Linked DNA regions of Homo sapiens: all the other regions are reported to be linked to region 1. The links are microRNA targets in miRTarBase. Many come from high-throughput screens and were not tested one by one. Region 1 holds a microRNA gene; each other region holds the end of a gene's coding sequence.

Region 1 (3,000 bases):
GCTCCTCCCGCCCTCTAGTGGTCACCGGGAGCCTTGCGGGGCTGGGCCGCGCAAGCTGAGGGGCCGCTCGGACCGGGCGGAGAGGAGTAAGGGCAGCGCTGCCTAAGTGAGGCAGCGAGAGCCCGCGAGAGGGAAGCAGGGCCCGGGAGAGAAGGGTCACTGCCGTGGCCAGGGAGGGAGGAACGCACAGCATGGTGGACGGCTGGGAGCTTTAGGAGGGGGCACTCCGGGACGCGTGGTGGTGGCGTCTGGAGGAAATGGAGCTAAGCGGGTGGGGTCCTGAGGTATGTGGAAGGGGCACCGAGGTATGTGGGAGAGGACGTTGGAACGTGGGCGGGGGAGTTGGACACGTTCTGTGTGGGCCGTTATGTACTTAAGAGGCAGATCGGGCGTGGCACGGTGGCTCACGCCCGTAATCCCAACACTTTGGAAGGCCGAGGCGAGTGGATCACAAGGTCAGGGGTTCAAGACCAGCCTGGCCAAGATGGTGAAACCTCGTCTCTACTAAAAACTACAAAAATTAGCCGAGCGTGGTGGCGGGCGCTGTAACCCCAGCTACTCAGGAGGCTGAGGCAGGAGAATCGCTTGAACCCGGGAGGCGGAGGTTGCAGTGAGCCGAGATCGCGCCATTGCACTCCAGCCTGGGCGACAGAGCAAGACTCCGTCTCAAAACAAAAAAGGGGGGGGCAGAGAGTAGGTGGGGTGACAGAATGGGATTTACGGACACAGAACTATCCTTTGGGGAGCAGAGTGGTATTGGGGACAGGTAGGCACGTAGCGGGGGGCAAAAGCACACGTGAGGTGCGTAATGCGCGACAGCCAAGAGGTGTGTGCGGCAGCAGTGCACGAGGGGAGGAAGCTATCCCAGGCCGCGGCAGCACGTGGAACTTGGGTCCCGCAGTCGCAGGCTGCGCTCTAGGCCGACGGAAGCAGTTCCGCCTGTATTCAGAAAACAGTTCTCAGCCCCAAAGACACAGGTTGGAAAGAACACTTTAAAAACACTTCGGCGAGGCACGGGATTGGAGCGCATCAGATCAGCAGGCGAGAGACCACAGCTCTCGCCCGCGCGCCGCGCGGCGCCCGAGGCGCAGCTTTGTGTGCGGCGAGACCCTGGGGCAGGCGCTGGGCGGGGTGGGGACATCTGACGTCAGCGCGCCCGGGAGCGCGGGCCGGGGAGGCGGGGAGCCCCCCAACTCGCAGGCCGGAGAAAACACGAGTAGCTAGGTGGGCGGCCCCAAACCTCAACTCCCGGCATTGCCAAGCAACAGCCATTCAGTTCGGTTGCTGGGACACGCGTCACCATGGCGACGGCTCCGCGCCGCGCAGTCTGAGTACTTAAAGAGCAAGCGCGCGCAACGCCCGGGCGTCGGAAAGCGGCCTTCTGGGACTCCGCAAACTCCCGTTCTCCCTCCCCCCTCCCCCTTGCCATTCCCTTTGCCTTCCGGGCGCCAAGTCTCTCTGGCCTCCAAGGTGAACCCAACTCCCCAGCGCGCCCCGGGTTCCCGGGTCGGGCCGGCTTCAGGCGGTGGGGAGCGGGATCCCGGGCCCCGGGCGGGCGGGAGGGACGGGACGCGGTGCAGTGTTGTTTTTTCCCCCGCCAATATTGCACTCGTCCCGGCCTCCGGCCCCCCCGGCCCCCCGGCCTCCCCGCTACCCCTAGCGGGGCAGCCCCCGCCCTCCTGGCTCTCCATCCCGGCGGATCTTTGATAGACTGGAGTGTCGCCGCTGCCACCGTGAGTAAGTGGGTCTGGGAGGACTTCGGGCATCCTCCCTCAGGCACCCTATCCTTCACTTAACTCCATCCAGCACCTCCCCCACCCGCATCCCCAAATCAGCCAAACTTCCCCTAGATCCCTAACTTCCACCCTCCCAGGCTTTCTCTTCTACTCGCCGATTCCTTCCACTTCCCCACCCTATCCCGGAAAATCCCTAAAATAAGCAGTTGCACTGGCTTAGAAAACAACCAAAACTTTATGGCAATGTGCTGTCATCTTTCCTGGGGTTAGTGCCTGAGTAATACCCCTTGAAAACTTCTCATCCCCTGAAGGGTGGGGTGACCACCCCTCTGGGACTGAACTCCTTTTGGGAGCCAGAGAAGGGTCTGTGGTTGGCTGAGGGGCTGTAGCTTAGACCTCAGGGTCTCCAGGATGGACCCCAAGGCCAAAGGGTCTAAAATTCTGAATTCTGAATCTGGTGGCCTCCTCCTCACACCCTTCCCTGGAGCAGCTGCCTCCGGAATGGCTCAAAGTCCTCAGGCACTGTGTCTGAAGAAGGGGAAATAAGTAAGGTCAGAGGATGTGGCTCTCCCACAAGGCATGAAGGATTAGGTTGATCTCAATCAGCCACCTCACCATTGCATCGATACTGGAGATTGGACCAAATTATGTTTTCTTGGGAGAAGCAGAATACACCAAGACGCCCCCCTCGCATGGATGTGTCAATGATCACCCCAGAATCCGCCACAAGCTGGGGTCCCTCATAGAGCTTCACCCTGTCCAGGATTCCAGGATAGGAGTATCCATTGGTGCTAGGGTGCCAGTGGGCACTGTGCCACCATGCCTGGGGCCTTGCTTTTCCCCAGCCCCCCTTGAGCTCACCAGGCCTGAGAGAGAAGGGAGGGAGGGAAAGGGAGGCAGGAAGGAGAGGGAAGGGGGGTGCTTTTCTCAGGCCTGGGGCCCCTAGCTCTTTGTCCAGCTCCTTTTGCATCTCAAAGCACCAGCCGCATTCCAAGCGAGGATTGGGTTGCCATGACAATAAGCACAATGGGCTGGGGGGTGAAGTCACCCGCTTCCCAGGCTCTAGTCCACCCCCTTTTATCCCCTGTCCTGGCACCCCACAGCCCCAGGCACCTTAAAGGGGAACCAACCCAGGTTCCTGGACTCTGGGCTCTTGGCCATGGAAAGTCCAGCCTCTAAGCAGACCCATTTCCCCTCCCTTCCTGTTCATCTCCACCAACTAGGGCTACTTGTTGGAGAGAAATGCAAAGTTGTGGACAAAGTG
Region 2 (5,711 bases), not on the chromosome of region 1:
TCAGCTGTGTTTTTTTTCACTGACTGTTTAGGTGAGAAGGAATGGGACTTGCTAATGTTTTTAGGAGAGGCTGCCATTGAAAGATGCTACTTTGTTCTCAGTTCCCAAGCCAGGGAGAGTGAAGAGGCTCAAATTTTTCAGAGGATACTGAACTTGAAGCCAGCACAGCTACTGTTTTGGGAGAGGGGAGATGCTGGGGATAGAAGGAAGAACATGGAGGGCCTTCAAGCTGCCCTCCAGGAAGTGATGTTCTCTTCTTGCCTCAGATGTGTGTCTGTGGAGGATATGGCCGCCCTGGCCAGGGAGCTGGGGATTCAGGTAGATGAAGACTTTGAAAACACTCAGAGAATTCAAGTTTCCTCTGGAGAAAACATGGCTGGGACAGCTGAAGGTGAGGGTCAGCAAAGACACAGTCAGCTAAAAAGCTCATCTAAAAGCCAGGCTCTAATGCCAATTCAAGAGCCTGGGACTCAATGTGAGCTCAGCCAGAATCTTCAGAATCTCTATGGTACCCCAGTATTCAGGCCTGTTCTAGAGAACTCCTGGCTCTTTCCAACCAGAATTGGAGGTAACTTTAACCATGTTTCCTTGAAAGCCTCCTGGGTTATGGGCCGCCCCTTTGGGTCAGAGCAGAGGCCTAAGTGGTTCCATCCTTTGCCTTTTCAGAATGCAGGGGCCCAGGGCCGAGGTAAAAGTTTTGGTATTCAATCCTTCCATCCCCAGATATTTTATTCAGGTGAAAGATTCATGAAATTTTCCAGAGTTGCTCGGGGATGTCACTCGAATGGAACATTTGGGAGACTGCCAAGACCCATTTGTCAGCATGTACAGGCCTGCCCTGAGAGACCACAAATGATGGGAACTCTTGAAAGGTCTAGGGCAGTAGCCTCCAAGATAGGTCACTCCTATTCCCTGGATTCACAGCCAGCAAGAGCAGTAGGGAAGCCATGGCCTCAGCAAGCTTGCACCAGGGTAACAGAGTTAACTGAAGCAACTGGAAAACTGATAAGAACATCCCATATTGGAAAGCCTCACCCTCAGTCCTTTCAACCAGCAGCAGCCACACAAAAACTAAGACCTGCTTCTCAGCAAGGAGTCCAGATGAAGACACAAGGTGGGGCTTCAAATCCAGCTCTCCAAATAGGGTCCCATCCCATGTGCAAGAGCTCTCAGTTCAAATCCGATCAGTCCAACCCATCCACAGTCAAACACTCCCAGCCTAAACCCTTCCATTCTGTGCCCTCTCAACCTAAATCCTCTCAGACAAAATCCTGTCAGTCCCAGCCCTCCCAAACTAAACCTTCTCCATGCAAATCTACTCAGCCTAAGCCAAGCCAGCCCTGGCCTCCCCAGTCTAAGCCTTCTCAGCCCAGACCCCCTCAACCTAAGTCATCCTCAACCAATCCTTCACAAGCTAAGGCACACCACTCAAAAGCAGGGCAGAAGAGGGGAGGGAAGCATTAAAGAGCTAACTCCAGAGATCTATAAAGCATATCCTTTACCCAGGCCATTCCTATCATATAGTAAGCAGAAGAGTTGCCATGAAAGTAAAAGACTACTGTCATTAGCATGTAAAACAAAGAAAGATATACATGACTGAATTGGATATCTTTGTTTGTTTGTTTGAGACAGAGTTTCACTCTTGTTGCCCAGGCTGGAGTGCAATGGCACGATCTCGGCTCACCGCAACCTCTGCTTCCTGGCTTAAAGTGATTCTCCTGCCTCAGCCTCTCGAGTAGCTGGGATTACAGGCATGCACCACCACACCCAGCTAATTTTGTATTTTTAGTAGAGGCAGGGTTTCTCCATGTTGGTCAGGCTGGTCTTGAACTCCCGACCTCAGGTGATCCGCCCACCTAGGCCTCTCAAAGTGTTGGGATTACGTGTGTAAGCCACAGTGCCCAGCCCGAATTGGATATCTTTAAGATATCTGTAAGTGTTATATCCCTAACCAAGAAGAAAAATATGAAAATAATTAAGACTAGAATCAAGCAGTAGATAATTGAATCCAATCTTGGGTATTATTAGATAATGTATAACTTGCACCCAGGGAATGGGGGTCTATGAGACAACCCCACTTGGAGAAGAATGGGGTTAGGGTCTCTAATTGCAAAGTGACTGTACAATAGGACGAAAGTTGCCTCTGTGTCTGAGAAAGTATCTTAGTTGTTGGCTGCTCCAGAGGTATCTTTGTCAAAAGCTTCTGGTTCAATATCAGCCACTGAGCAGATAACCCTGCTTATTTGGTGTGGTTAAATCAACTAGCTTCTGCTAATAGCCCCAATTTGCTTGAATGGGAAAACTCTCTCATTTGACCCTTATAGGTAGAAATAATGAATTAACAACCAATAAAATTAATCATTTGGCATTAACTTTGTGAAAGATCTATGTTTGTTTCATATTTGATATGGTTTGGCTCTGTCTCCACCCAAATCTTATCTCGAATTGTAATCCCCATGTCCCTCAGGAGGGACCAGGGACCTGGTGGGAGGTGATTGGATTATGGGGCCGGTTTCCTCCATGCTGTTCCTGTGATAGTGAGTGAGTTCTCACGAGATCTGATGATTTATTTTTATTTTTTTGAGATGGAATCTCGCTCTGTCACCGAGGCTGGAGTGCAGTGACATGAACTTGGCTCATTGCAACCTCTACCTCCCAGGTTCAAGCAATTTTCCTGCCTCATCCTCCCAAGTAGCTGGGATTACAGGTGTCTGCCACCACACTTAGCTAATTTTTGTATTTAGTAGAGATGCAGTTTCACCATGTTGGCCAGGCTGGTCTCAGACTCCTGATCGCAAGTAATCCACCTACCTTGGCCTCCCATACTGCTGGGATCACAGACATGAGCCACCAAGTCCAGCCGAGATCTGATGGTTTAAAAGTGTGCCACTTACCCCCTTGTTCTCTCTGTCTTCTGTCGCCACGTAAGACATACCTTGCTTCCTCTTCACCTTCCATCATGATTGTGTTTCCTGAGGCCTCCCCAGCCATGCAGATCTGTGAGTCAATAACTTCTTTCCTTTATAAATTACTCAGTCTCAGATAGTTCTTTTTTTTTTTTTTAGATGGAGTCTTGCTCCGTCACCCAGGCTGGAGTGCAGTGGCGCACGCCGATCTTGGCTCACTGCAACCTCTGCCTCCTGGCTTCAAGCGATTCTCCTGCCTCAGCCTCCCAAGTAGCTGGGACTACAGGCGCCTGCCACCACGCCTGGCTAATTTTTGTATTTTTAGTAGAGACAGGGTTTCATCATGTTTGCCAGGCTGGTCTCGAACTCCTGACCTTGTGATCTACCTGCCTCAGCCTCTCAAAGTTTTGGGATTACAGGCGTGAGCCACCGTGCACGGCCTCAGGTAGTTCTTTATAGCAGTGTGAAAACAGACTAATACAATAGTTTAAATATTTGTAATAGTTAAGAAAATTGGACTTATTAGAGGGTCTGGTATTAATATACTAATACCTCATGATTCAAATTTAAAATGTTATTGAGTTTTCTTTTTTTTTTTTATACTTTAAGTTTTAGGGTACATGTGCACATTGTGCAGGTTAGTTACATATGTATACATGTGCCATACTGGTGCGCTGCACCCACTAACTCGTCATCTAGCATTAGGTGTATCTCCCAATGCCATCCCTCCCCCCTCCCCCCACCCCACCACAGTCCCCAGAGTGTGATATTCCCATTCCTGTGTCCCTGTGATCTCATTGTTCAATTCCCACCTATGAGTGAGAATATGCGGTGTTTGGTTTTTTGTTCTTGCGATAGTTTACTGAGAATGATGATTTCCAATTTCATCCATGTCCCTACAAAGGACATGAACTCATCATTTTTTATGGCTGCATAGTATTCCATGGTGTATATGTGCCACATTTTCTTAATCCAGTCTATCATTGTTGGACATTTGGGTTGGTTCCAAGTCTTTGCTATTGTGAATAATGCCACAATAAACATACGTGTGCATGTGTCTTTATAGCAGCATGATTTATAGTCCTTTGGGTATATACCCAGTAATGGGATGGCTGGGTCAAATGGTATTTCTAGTTCTAGATCCTTGAGGAATCGCCACACTGACTTCCACAATAGTTGAACTAGTTTACAGTCCCACCAACAGTGTAAAAGTGTTCCTATTTCTCCACATCCTCTCCAGCACCTGTTGTTTCCTGACTTTTTAATGATTGCCATTCTAACCAGTGTGAGATGGTATCTCATTGTGGTTTTGATTTGCATTTCTCTGATGGCCAGTGATATGTTAATGAGTTTTCAGTTTTAGAGTTGTAATTTTCTTAAGTTAAAAGATAAGTTTACAAAAAACATTGAAATGTTAAAGAGAACTTAAGATTCACAAAATTTATACTTTTATTAGATTCATATTATTCTAAACATTTGGGTAAATTCTGCTTGTTAGAGGCATTAAGGAAAAATAGTGTATTAAATTTAAAATATTTAAGTCACATTTAGTTAACTAGGTTTGTAAATGACATCAAATATGGATAAAAGGACACTTTAAAAGTATCTGTTAAAAGTCACTAGATTAAGAATAAAATAATAACATTTATAAATTGAACTTAATAGCTTCAGTTTGTGAATTGGCAACTCTAGTAAAATTAATATTAATTTAAAGCACTACAGTAGTCCCCAAATAGTCTTTCATATGTAAAAAAAGTACCTTCAAGTACATCAAAAAAGAAAAAGTCATATTGACAAATGAATGAGAGCTGGTCTTTGAAAAGCAATAATTAATCCTTGAGAATGGTATCATATCACAACAGATATTTTTCCTTTGTGCATGTATTAAACAATCAATATTGAGTGTGTCCATGTTTTTTTTTTTTTTTTTTTTTTTGAGACGGAGTCTCTCTCTGTTGCCTAGGCTTGGAGTGCAGTGGCACAATCTCAGCTCACTACAACCTCCTCCTCCCGGGTTCAAGTGATTCTCCTGCCTCAGCCTCCCAAGTAGCTGGGATTACAGGCATGCCCCACCAAGCCCAGCTAATTTTTGTGTTTCTCAGTAGAGATGGGGTTTCACCATGTTGGCTGGGCTGGTCTTGAACTCCTGACCTCAAGTGATCTGCCCGCCTTGGCCTCCCAAAGTGCTGGGATTACAGGTGTGAGCCACCATGCCTGGCCCTAAAGGAAGTATTTCTAAAGGGCTGAACAAGATAAAGGGAAAGAAAATGCAAAGGAGAGTGCAGTACCCTGGATCCAGTAAAAGCACTCTAGAGAGGAGAAGAAAGTGCCTTCCCCAGTCAGAAGAGCTGTATGGAAATGGTCTTAGGTCTAGTTGGTTGAGGGATACAGCAAGCTACAGTGAGTGACCTGAAGCAAATAAATATCTCCTCCCTACCTCAGGTCGGCTGCTGGTGCATCTCCTTGGCCCAACCCAATCAGAAGCCAGAGGGTAAGGTAGCCCGTCCAGGCAGCCCATGTAGACCAGCCTTTTAGGATTTAGAGAAGAATGGACAGTGAATTTGCAGGGTCAAGCAGGAGACGTCCAGCAGATTCCTCCCTTTCCATCCCATTCTTCTTTCCTTTTCTTTTTTTTCTTTCTTCCTTCTCTAACATTTATTTATTGAGCATCTATTACATGCAAGGCTTTGGAATACAAACTGGGAAGACATGGGAAAAGAATGAGAAATCCCACGGTAGTTGTGACATCCTATAAATCTCCATGTTCCCTCTTTATTATAAAACTATTTAATACAAGCTCATTAT
Region 3 (3,584 bases), not on the chromosome of region 1:
GGGGAGATGCTGGGCCCTTGTCCTCATGGGTGGAAGCTCTGAGGTTGCTTCCAAGGGCGGGAGGCTTCCCTGGGATTCCTGCAAGACCCAGAGCAGGGGCCGGACTGTGGCCGCCTCAGGACAGAGCAGAAGCTTATGGCCAGGTTGGGGAAGTGGCCCTAGGCCCCCGACCCTCTGCCCCGTAGCACCTTCCACGGCTGCAGAAAGGCAAACACACCTGGGCTCCCCAGGAAGGGGCGGTGGCCGGAGCCAGTCTAGGGAGTGGGAGGGGCAACACAGGCTGGAGTCAGCAAGGACGAGGCCTAGGACAGGGAGCCCAGCCTCCGCCTTCCTGTCTCCCCACAGGTCCAGGTCCTCCTCTACTACCTGCAGCACCCCCCCATTTCCTTCGCAGAACTCAAGCGGAACACACTGTACTTCTCCACCGACGTGTAGCCCGAGGCAGGGTGGCTGCGGGCGGGTGGTGGAACCAGCCCCTCCAGCCTGGGGTCCAACTCAGACTTGAAAGACTGCAATAGAAAACTCCCAAACCCAGCACTCCAGACTCGAGGGAAGCCAGCTTCCAAGAACTGGAATGCGTACGTCTTTTGTGCCACCTTGTACAAAGCCGGCTGCCCAGCCCCAGCCTCACCACCGCATCCCACCTCCTGCCCTCCATACCTCTAGTTGTGTCTGATGCTCCGTGCTGTTCGGGAATTGTTTTATGTACACTTGTCAGGCAGAAAAGGTAGTGACCGGCCCGGCGTGGGCACACAGACAGCCCGCTTTGTTCTTTCATTTCCTCCAGCACTTTCTTTCCGCCTGAGTCCAGCCCAAGGCCTTTTATTTTGCGCTGTGTAACTGCTGCCAGCTTCTCTCTTGGCCCTGCTCCCAGATGGCGGTCTCCTGGCAGCCTCCCCTCAGTCTTCCTCCACCCGCTCTTCCTTCCCAGCCTGCCTGCATGCATGTGCACCCTTGGTCTTCGCTCCATCGCCTTGAAAGCTCTGAAGAGGCCCTGGGTTGCCGCGGCAGCAGTGGTCTGTTTGATGCTGCCGTTTGCCGCTGCCGGCCCCTCCTCAGACTCCGCCTTTGGGAGCACACCTGCTTTGCCTTGCTGCCTGTGCAAATGTTGGACAAGCAGACACACTCACACTCGTCCCCAGCTTAGCACAGAGCTGGAGCGCCCATTTCTGGAATTTTCCGTTTGGGAATCTCCACTTCTGGGGTTTACCTGTTCGGCCTCCTGTCTATCAGTGAGGCATCTCTGACTGTTTCTTCTACTGCTTTTCAGTTCCCTTCCCTGCTGTTCTATTTCCTTTGAGTGTAAAGACTCACAGGTGACCTGCTATCGAGATAGCCAGAGGGTCAGGAGAGAATGGGGGAGGAGGCGGTCAGGCTGCTGAGGAAACACCACAGGCTGAACGGGGGAGGAATGCACATGCCACGCTGGGTGTCCCGGGTCGCGGGGAGGCAGCTCAGCTCTTAGGAGCAAGTTGTGGGGGCTTTTCAAGAGGGGCCAGGCTTCCTGGAGGGTGACTGATGTGGCCGAAGCAGGTGTCCAGGCAGGTAGGCTGCAGCCAGGAGCTCCCTGGCACCGCAGGACCTCGTGGTACTCTTGCCTTAGATTTTACACACACTCCACAGCCAAGCACTGCCACGGTCCTCCAGGACCTGGGAAGCAAAGGCACAGGCCCACGGTGGCCAGCCATTGTGGTGCCGCCCCAGCTTCTGGATACAGCCTTTTGGGTAAACACTGGGAACTCCAGAAGTTGTGGGGAGAGTGGGGAATCAGACAGCCGCCTCTAGGGGCTGGGTTCTGCTGGGGCCTCCTTGTTGGTGCTGTAGGCACCCGCCAGGGAGCAGGGACCCGACTTGCAGACGCATTGCCCGGTACTAGGAAGGAGTGAGGTGTGTTCCCACCGTACACTTCCCACACGAGCTGCGGCTGCCAGCCTCGGGCCATCAGCCTAGGAGAGCAGATGCAGCTCCAGGGGCTCGACTTATAGCCAGTTACAGCTCCCCGGCTCTTCTGTGTGGCAGAGCGTCGTTTCCGGGCCCTCAGGGCTGGGGAGCTCAGTTCCCATTGCTTGTGCTCAGGGCTGAGTCTTAAAGAAGGGTTTGCCGGCCCTAACGCTGCAGCGCGTGCGCGGTGAGAGGCCCTTTTTGAGCCTGTTTACTCCTGTGGCCTTGGGCAGAACAGTAAATACTCTGTGCACGGAGGAAAGACATGCCCAAGAGGAAGGAAGTACTGACCATCGGCTGCCTGTGAGCAGCTTAGCAAGGAGCCCTTGCTCCCTGGGAAAGGCGGTGAACTTGAGTCTAAAGATGCAGTGCCTGGCCCTTCCTAAGGTCCCTGCCTGGCATCCGAGTGTCGGTGTGTGGCACAGAAGGCTCCTGCTTGCTTCCAAAGTGATGGACAGGAAGGGGCAGAGTGAGTCACGGCCCAGACTGGGCACCTTCGCGTCTCAGCCTCAGGGAGCCCCACAGCCCCAAGCTCGCTGAGGCAACGTGAGAACAGGCTATGGGAAGGCTGCAAAGGCTGAGAAATGCAAAGGCTCATATTTATAAATCCCACCCCCAGAGTGGGGAGGGTCAGGTGCCAGACCTGGACTAAACTGCACCAAGGAAACACCCAGCAGGGTCTCCTGTGAGCCGGGGACCATGCAGCCCGAAACCTCCAGTCACTGCGCCCGGCAGGAGTCAGGAGCCAGGGACTGTGCAGCCTGGAACCTCCAGTCACTGTGCCCAGCAGGGTGGGCTGTGCCCAGCAGGAGTCAGGCTAAGAAACGCCAGGTCTGCCTGTTCTTGCTGGGCAATGGCTGATGGCTGCCAGTTTCTGCTGATACACAGGTAGGATGGGACCCTTCATGAATATCTGACTTTAATAAGTTGGTAAGGATATATTTTTTTGTCTATGTTCTGTTTCAACTTATGTAGATTATTATAAATTGATGTAAACCACGTGAGAGGAAAATGTTAATAAAAAATGCAAAGCCCCATCATTTGCACAAAACTCAGCCCTGTGGTGTGGATGTTTGTGTTCGCGGTGGTCCAGGGAAGCCACCAATGTAAATATTTAACTCTTCCAGCTGCATCCAGATGTGAGTTTCCAGGAATCTGTTTACCTAGTTCACTCCCCTTGAGCCTCCCTGTGGCCCACGGGGGCTGGGGCAGAGCTGCGGGGAGGTGGGCTGGAGCCCTCTCCTTGCTCTTCACAAAGGCCTCCGGATCAGCCAGCATCCAGGCTGCTTCTGGCTCACCTTTGCCATGTGCTGCTACAGTACAAATGTCCCACCTGGCCATCGGTGTGCCTTGAAAGTGGCATGAAGTTGTCCACTGAACAGGAAGCGTCTTCTTTTATGTAAACGCTTCTCTACGCTTTCCTTCAAAGTGGCATATCTTTGAGGCAGCCTTTTGGTCTAATCTGCTTGTCAGAGAAGCTGGGTCTCCGAGGGCCCACCCTCCCTTTGAGAGAGTCAGTGGCGTGAATATTGGCTCCCACCAGCCGAAGCAACTGGACACTGAGTTTATTCTGAAGATCAGGAACAGATGTCTCTGAAAATTGCTGTTTGGTTTATGAGCTCATACTGGCTCCCCAGCCATCG
Region 4 (5,711 bases), not on the chromosome of region 1:
GGGTTCAAGCAATTCTCCTGCCTCAGCCTCCCGACTAGCTGGGATTACAGGCATGCGCCACCACACCCAGCTAATTTTGTATTTTTAGTAGAGATGAAATTTCCCCATGTTGGTCAGGCTGGTCCCGACCTCAGGTGATCCGCCCTCCTCAGCCTCCCAAAGTGCTGGGATTACAGACGTGAGCTACCACTCCTGGCCCCCCCCAATTTTTTTTATAGCCTTGTTCTACAAGTTTTTTTTTTTAATTTTTTAAATTTTTAACATTTTAAGCATTTTTGTTAAAAATGAAGACACAAACATAATAGCCTATCCAGGGTCAACATCATCAATATCATCGTCTTCCACTTCCACGTCTTGTCCCACTGGAAGGTCTTCTGGGGCAGTAACATACATGGAGCTGTCATTTCCTAGGATAACAGTGCTGCCTTCTGGAAAACCTCCTTAAAGGGCCTGCCTGAGGCTGTTTTACAGTTAACATTTTTTTAAATAAGTAGAAGGAGTAAGTCTACAATAACAATAAAAGCATTGCATAATAAATACATGAGCCAGTAACAGTCACTTATTAAATATTACATAATGTACATAATTGTATGTGTTACACTTTTATGTAACAACTTTAAGCACTGTTTACACCAGTATCACCACAAACATGTAATGGGTTACACTACAGCCTTACAGTGGCTACCACGTCACTAAGCTATAGGAATGAATGAATGAATGAATTTATTTATTTAAGACAGGGTCTCGCTCTGTTGCCAGGACTGCAGTGCAGTGGTGCTATCTCGGTCCACTGCAACTTCTGCTTCCTGGGTTCAAGTGATTCTTATGCCTCAGCCTCCCAAGTAGCTGAGACTACAAGCGTACACCACCATGCCTGGCTAATTTTTGGATTTTTAGTAGAGATATGGTTTTGTCATGTTGGCCAGGTTGGTCTGGAACTCCTGGCCTCAAGTGGTCCTCCTGCCTTGGCCTCCCAGAGTGCTGGGATTACAGGCATGAGCCACTGCACCCAACTGAAATATTTTAGTTTCATTATAGTCTTACGGGACCACTGTGGTATATGAGGTCTGTTGTTCACTGAAATGTTCTGTGGTACATGATTGTACATGATTGTGTGCTATAAAAATTTAACATTTGACCAGTTATCACTGCCCGCTCCCTCACTTTTTGGAAGGCTAAAATTATCAATGATTTTCTAGGGTTTCACTTCTGTATATAACTAAAGCAGTGTTTAATGACAGGGAATTTGGGGCTGAGTCTGTGGTATAATTCTAAATTGTAATGTGTCATTTTTATGTTTTTGATTTTGTTTTAATAGAAAGCTTTTGATGTAAAAACTATTTTAACTTTACATCAATGTATATTATCCTGTGAAAATGTTTTGAAGATACTTAGATCTATTGTTGAAGATACAGATGCTTTGTATTATGTTTCAGATATGAGCAAGACAGTGGGCATGACAGTGGAAGTGAGGATGCCTGTTTTGATTCTTCACAACCATTTACCTTAGTTACTATAGGCATGCAGAAATTTTTTATACCCAAGTCACCTACTTCTTCTAATGAACCTGAAAATAGAGTTCTCCCTATGCCAACAAGTATTGGGATTTTCCTTGACTGTGATAAAGGCAAAGTAGATTTCTATGATATGGATCAGATGAAATGCCTTTATGAACGCCAAGTGGACTGTTCACATACACTGTATCCAGCATTTGCATTAATGGGCAGTGGAGGAATTCAGCTTGAAGAACCCATCACAGCAAAATATCTGGAATACCAAGAGGACATGTAGTTGAAACATCTGATGTGACTCAGGATAAAAACTGTAAACAAAGCAATGCCTTAGCGTTAACCTTCGTAACTAATTACATATCGCTGAGTGTTCTGTCACCCCACTTGTGTTTGAGTATGATTCTTCTTGAAATACAGAAAATCTAAACAGCCTTGTGTCTTCATGTCGTTGTTCTGCCTTTCACAAATGATGAAAGTGAAGATGTTCTTTCCAAGTTAATACTGAAGTGGTTAACTTTGCAACTGGACTGTCTTTTACTTTATGTACAGGATATCTAATTTATTTCTGTCAGCTGGTGTTGCTGACACTTTCCTTATGGTGGGGGGGATACAAAAGTATTTATTATGATTCTCTTCTGTTTGACTTTTCATTTTTATATCATGTTTATGTCCTAAGAGAAGATATTTTTTAAATGCCTTATGGATAGGAATTAGTACTAAGCAATGTGTCTTGCATTTGTTTTCAATAGGAAAACAAAGTTCTAGATAGGTTAAAAGAAAAACACCATAAAAGTGGTAGTATATTTAAGTGGAAAATTATGTATTTTAAAGTGTGTAACTATTAAAAATATATTGCCTGGAAAAGGAATACTACTGTTTTGTTTTGTTAAGACCACAAACTGTATTGCTAAGGACATTTTAAGAGTCTGCTTAGCCATAACACTCATTTAACAGCATGGGTAGTAAGCATGGTTTCTTGCAGAAAACACAAAGTTCTCAGCTAACACATTAAACTTCTCACTTTATATACTTTTTTTCAGAGAAATTTATCTTTAGTTTTTCTTATTCTGTGAAAATATTTGTTCTTATGTCAAAGAATTATTTTTCAGATATATTGGTAAAGATGGACTGATATTAAAAGTCATATTTATTCTTTTACCCCCTTACTGTGTTTTGTGATTTTCATTTTTGGCCCAATTATTACATATCAGGTTTTCCTGATTTATATTTACATGTTTGAAAAGTTCATTATATATTTTAGTAGCGTTACATATATTATAAATTTTTGTAACATTTAAATGTTCACTTATGTGGCATTTTCTGTTTCTCATTGGTAATAAGCATTTCTAATATAAGCAAGTAAAAATACAAATTTAATTACTTAGAAATGATAACTAAGATCACAATGACTGTGTACCCTTTAAAATATCTTTTAATTTGAGGAATTACATTCTATCTAAATTGTGTGTCTGTTTTTGAAAGGTGTTGCTTTCAAGTAGGTGGTTTTTATTTAAAGTACTTATTTTTTTGAGGTTAAAATATTCAGAAACTACTTTTATGCATTGTAGCAGTAATCATTTATGGAATGCTTTTGACATGTTTTAACAGGGTAACCAAAACTTTTAGGCCTGTTTTTTTTGGTTGTCCTTGTTGTTATATTTTTAATGGAAATCTGTTACTCAGGCTGGTAGCATTAAATTAGCTTTTTACCCTCAACTCAAGTAGCAAATATCATGGAGAACTTCAGTGTTTAGCAGGCTGTTAATTTCCCATCTATGAATAGCACTTTATGATGTAGGCTAAACTAAGCAAATAATGCAGCGTTATGTGGATCATTATGCAATAAAGCTGCTAAAGTCACATTTGTGGTTGATACTCAAGCCTTGTACAAGCACATATGATGTAGACATTTTTAAATGTGAAGCTTTAACAGGAATAGGATAGCTGTTTCAAACCTTGTGCAATTGTAAATAAATTGTTTAGCTGTGTTTCTTTCATTTTTAATAAAAAATTAAAAAGAATTCATGTGTAATTATTCAGATCTGCATTCCAGGAATTTTTAGTATGTTTACATGAAAAGTTGAAACAAACTGATTATGAAAAGATGATTAGCTGTACATATTAACTCAGAGCTACAGTTTTATATGAAATCATTTTGAACATTTATTTATTAGCTTAATTTCTGTGAAAGTGATTATTAGAGAAGCTTAACATAAAACTTCAATTGTTTCATATATTAAATTTTTTTAATATAAAACAATATAAAATTTTATTTTTTTATTACATAAGCTAATAATAATAGTGCAAGTTTGTTCTTTTATCCCCAAAGGAAAAATATGGTAAAAGTTATATCTTGACTAAGGATCTGAGGGTCAACATTTTAATACCAAAATGCTGTGTTTATAATTAATATATTCAAAATATACTCATCTTTAAACCAAATGTTATATACTAAAAGACATCAGAAAGTATCTACTAAATAGTACAATATAGTAACCACCTTGTAACACTGTACTTAATATAGCCCAGTTTTATAAAATACTGTAAATAGTTCTACCGTCTAAGCAATTCTAGATTTTATTTTTCCCTTTGTGCAACAAATCAGAATGCGTGATTATAGAATGCTAAAAGCTCTTGGAGATACTTTGCCAGGCATCTTTGAGGAGAAATTTTAGAGAATCAACGACACTTGATTAAGCATTTATGAACCATAAGTTTTTCTTCTGCTCTCCTGTGGAAAAAAAACAAACATAAAATAAAACAACAAACCATATTGGCAATTGCATATGTTTATAAACATTCCATTATTTTTTTTTTCTGTTTTAATTATCTTTTAAGATGAAATAATCTGTCCATAGGCTAGAGCAGCAAGTTTATGCAAGAGAATATGAAAACATCCTTCCTTCTAGTAGAATATGTATCCATAGTGCATGATGTCCACTGAAGTTTGTAATATTTTTACATGCAATGTTACTATTGCAGTTATTAACAACCTATAATGTTTTGCACATAGTAGGCTTTCAAATGCTGTTAGGATTCAACATGGGACATAAAGCCTAAGAATGGAACCAGATTCCCTAGGGTTTCAGTATTTGATTTCTAGATGACTAGAAGACTGCCCTGGTGTAATCTATGTGTCTTGGAATTTTTTTATGGTGATGAACAAAGTAAACATTTGACCTGGAAATCACTGGAAATATTCGAACCAAACAAAAGAGTAATAAAAAGTAAACCTATCCTTAACTTTAAAACCAAGCATGGGTTCTTCTGGTTGATGGGTGTATAGTTGAGAAAGCATATTTCTCCAGAACTATTCAGTTTCACTGACAGGGAAGTATTTTTTGGCACAATAACCAATTATTGAATTATTTTATTTTATTTTATTTTATTATACTTTAAGTTCTAGGGTACATACGCACAACACGCAGGTTTGTTACATATGTTTACATGTGCCATGTTGGTGTGCTGCACCCATTAACTCATCATTTACGTTATGTATATCTCCTAATGCTATCCCTCTCCCCTCCCCCACACCCCACAACAGGCCCCGGTATGTGATGTTCCCCACCCTGTGTCCAAGTGTTCTCATTGTGCATTTCCCACCTATGAGTGAGAACATGTGGTGTTTGGTTTTCTGTCCTTGCGATAGTTTGCTCAGAATGATGGATTCCAGCTTCATCCATGTCCCTACAAAGGACATGAACTCATCCTTTTTTAATGGCTGCATAGTATTCCATGGTGTATATGTGCCACATTTTCTTTATCCAGTCTATCATTGATGGACATTTGGGTTGGTTCCCAGTCCTTGCTATTGTGAATAGTGCCACAATAAACATACGTGTGCATGTTTCTTTATAGTAGCATGATTGATAATCCTTTGGGTTTATGCCCAGTAATGGGATGGCTGGGCCAAATGGTATTTCTGGTTGTAGATCCTTGAGGAATTGCCACACTGACTTCCCCAATGGTTGAACTAGTTTACAGTCCCATCAACAGTGTAAAAGTGTTCCTATTTCTCCACATCCTCTCCAGCACCTGTTGTTTCCTGACTTTTTAATGATTGCCATTCTAACTGGTGTGGGATGGTATCTCATTGTGGTTTTGATTTGCATTTCTCAGATGGCGAGTGATGATGAGCATTTTTTCATGTGTCTGTTGGCCACATAAATGTCTTCTTTTGAGAAGTGTCTGTTCATATCC

What was found. The annotated mature microRNA hsa-miR-92b-3p reads UAUUGCACUCGUCCCGGCCUCC and lies in region 1 at 1,602-1,623, shown strand. An mRNA with a match to its seed (bases 2 to 7 or 8) in the 3' UTR can be bound and repressed. Matches are read on the target gene's strand: a 7mer-m8 pairs with bases 2 to 8, a 7mer-A1 pairs with bases 2 to 7 and ends in A, and an 8mer does both.
Region 2: the mRNA of CARD6 is a reported target of hsa-miR-92b-3p. Seed matches in the 3' UTR shown: 7mer-m8 at 1,660-1,666.
Region 3: the mRNA of ABR is a reported target of hsa-miR-92b-3p. Seed matches in the 3' UTR shown: 7mer-A1 at 511-517.
Region 4: miRTarBase lists TRIM36 as a target of hsa-miR-92b-3p. Seed matches in the 3' UTR shown: 7mer-A1 at 3,350-3,356 and 7mer-m8 at 3,470-3,476.

The regions. Positions count from the first base shown.
Region 1 is chr1:155,193,636-155,196,635 of GRCh38, forward strand. It overlaps MIR92B (microRNA 92b), which reads left to right and starts at 1,542; the gene lies at 1,542-1,637. THBS3 (thrombospondin 3) reads right to left here. Exons shown (of 23, transcript NM_007112.5): 22 at 2,352-2,491; 23 at 1,953-2,264. The coding sequence ends at 2,206. It overlaps THBS3-AS1 (THBS3 antisense RNA 1), which reads left to right and starts at 1,362. Exons shown (of 6, transcript NR_183238.1): 1 at 1,362-1,737. RefSeq lists a silencer at 1,045-1,374 and an enhancer at 2,531-3,000.
Region 2 is chr5:40,852,983-40,858,693 of GRCh38, forward strand. CARD6 (caspase recruitment domain family member 6) reads left to right here. Exons shown (of 3, transcript NM_032587.4): 3 at 1-2,372. The coding sequence ends at 1,464. Among named protein-coding and RNA genes, the nearest start is that of CARD6, 14 kb to the left of the region's middle.
Region 3 is chr17:1,002,931-1,006,514 of GRCh38, reverse strand. ABR (ABR activator of RhoGEF and GTPase) reads left to right here. Exons shown (of 23, transcript NM_021962.5): 23 at 346-2,996. The coding sequence ends at 435. It overlaps TIMM22 (translocase of inner mitochondrial membrane 22), which reads right to left. Exons shown (of 4, transcript NM_013337.4): 4 at 2,844-3,584. Among named protein-coding and RNA genes, the nearest start is that of TIMM22, 7.6 kb to the right of the region's middle. RefSeq lists a silencer at 1,272-1,566 and an enhancer at 813-1,571.
Region 4 is chr5:115,122,583-115,128,293 of GRCh38, reverse strand. TRIM36 (tripartite motif containing 36) reads left to right here. Exons shown (of 10, transcript NM_001300759.2): 10 at 1,437-3,522. The coding sequence ends at 1,791. Among named protein-coding and RNA genes, the nearest start is that of TRIM36, 44 kb to the left of the region's middle.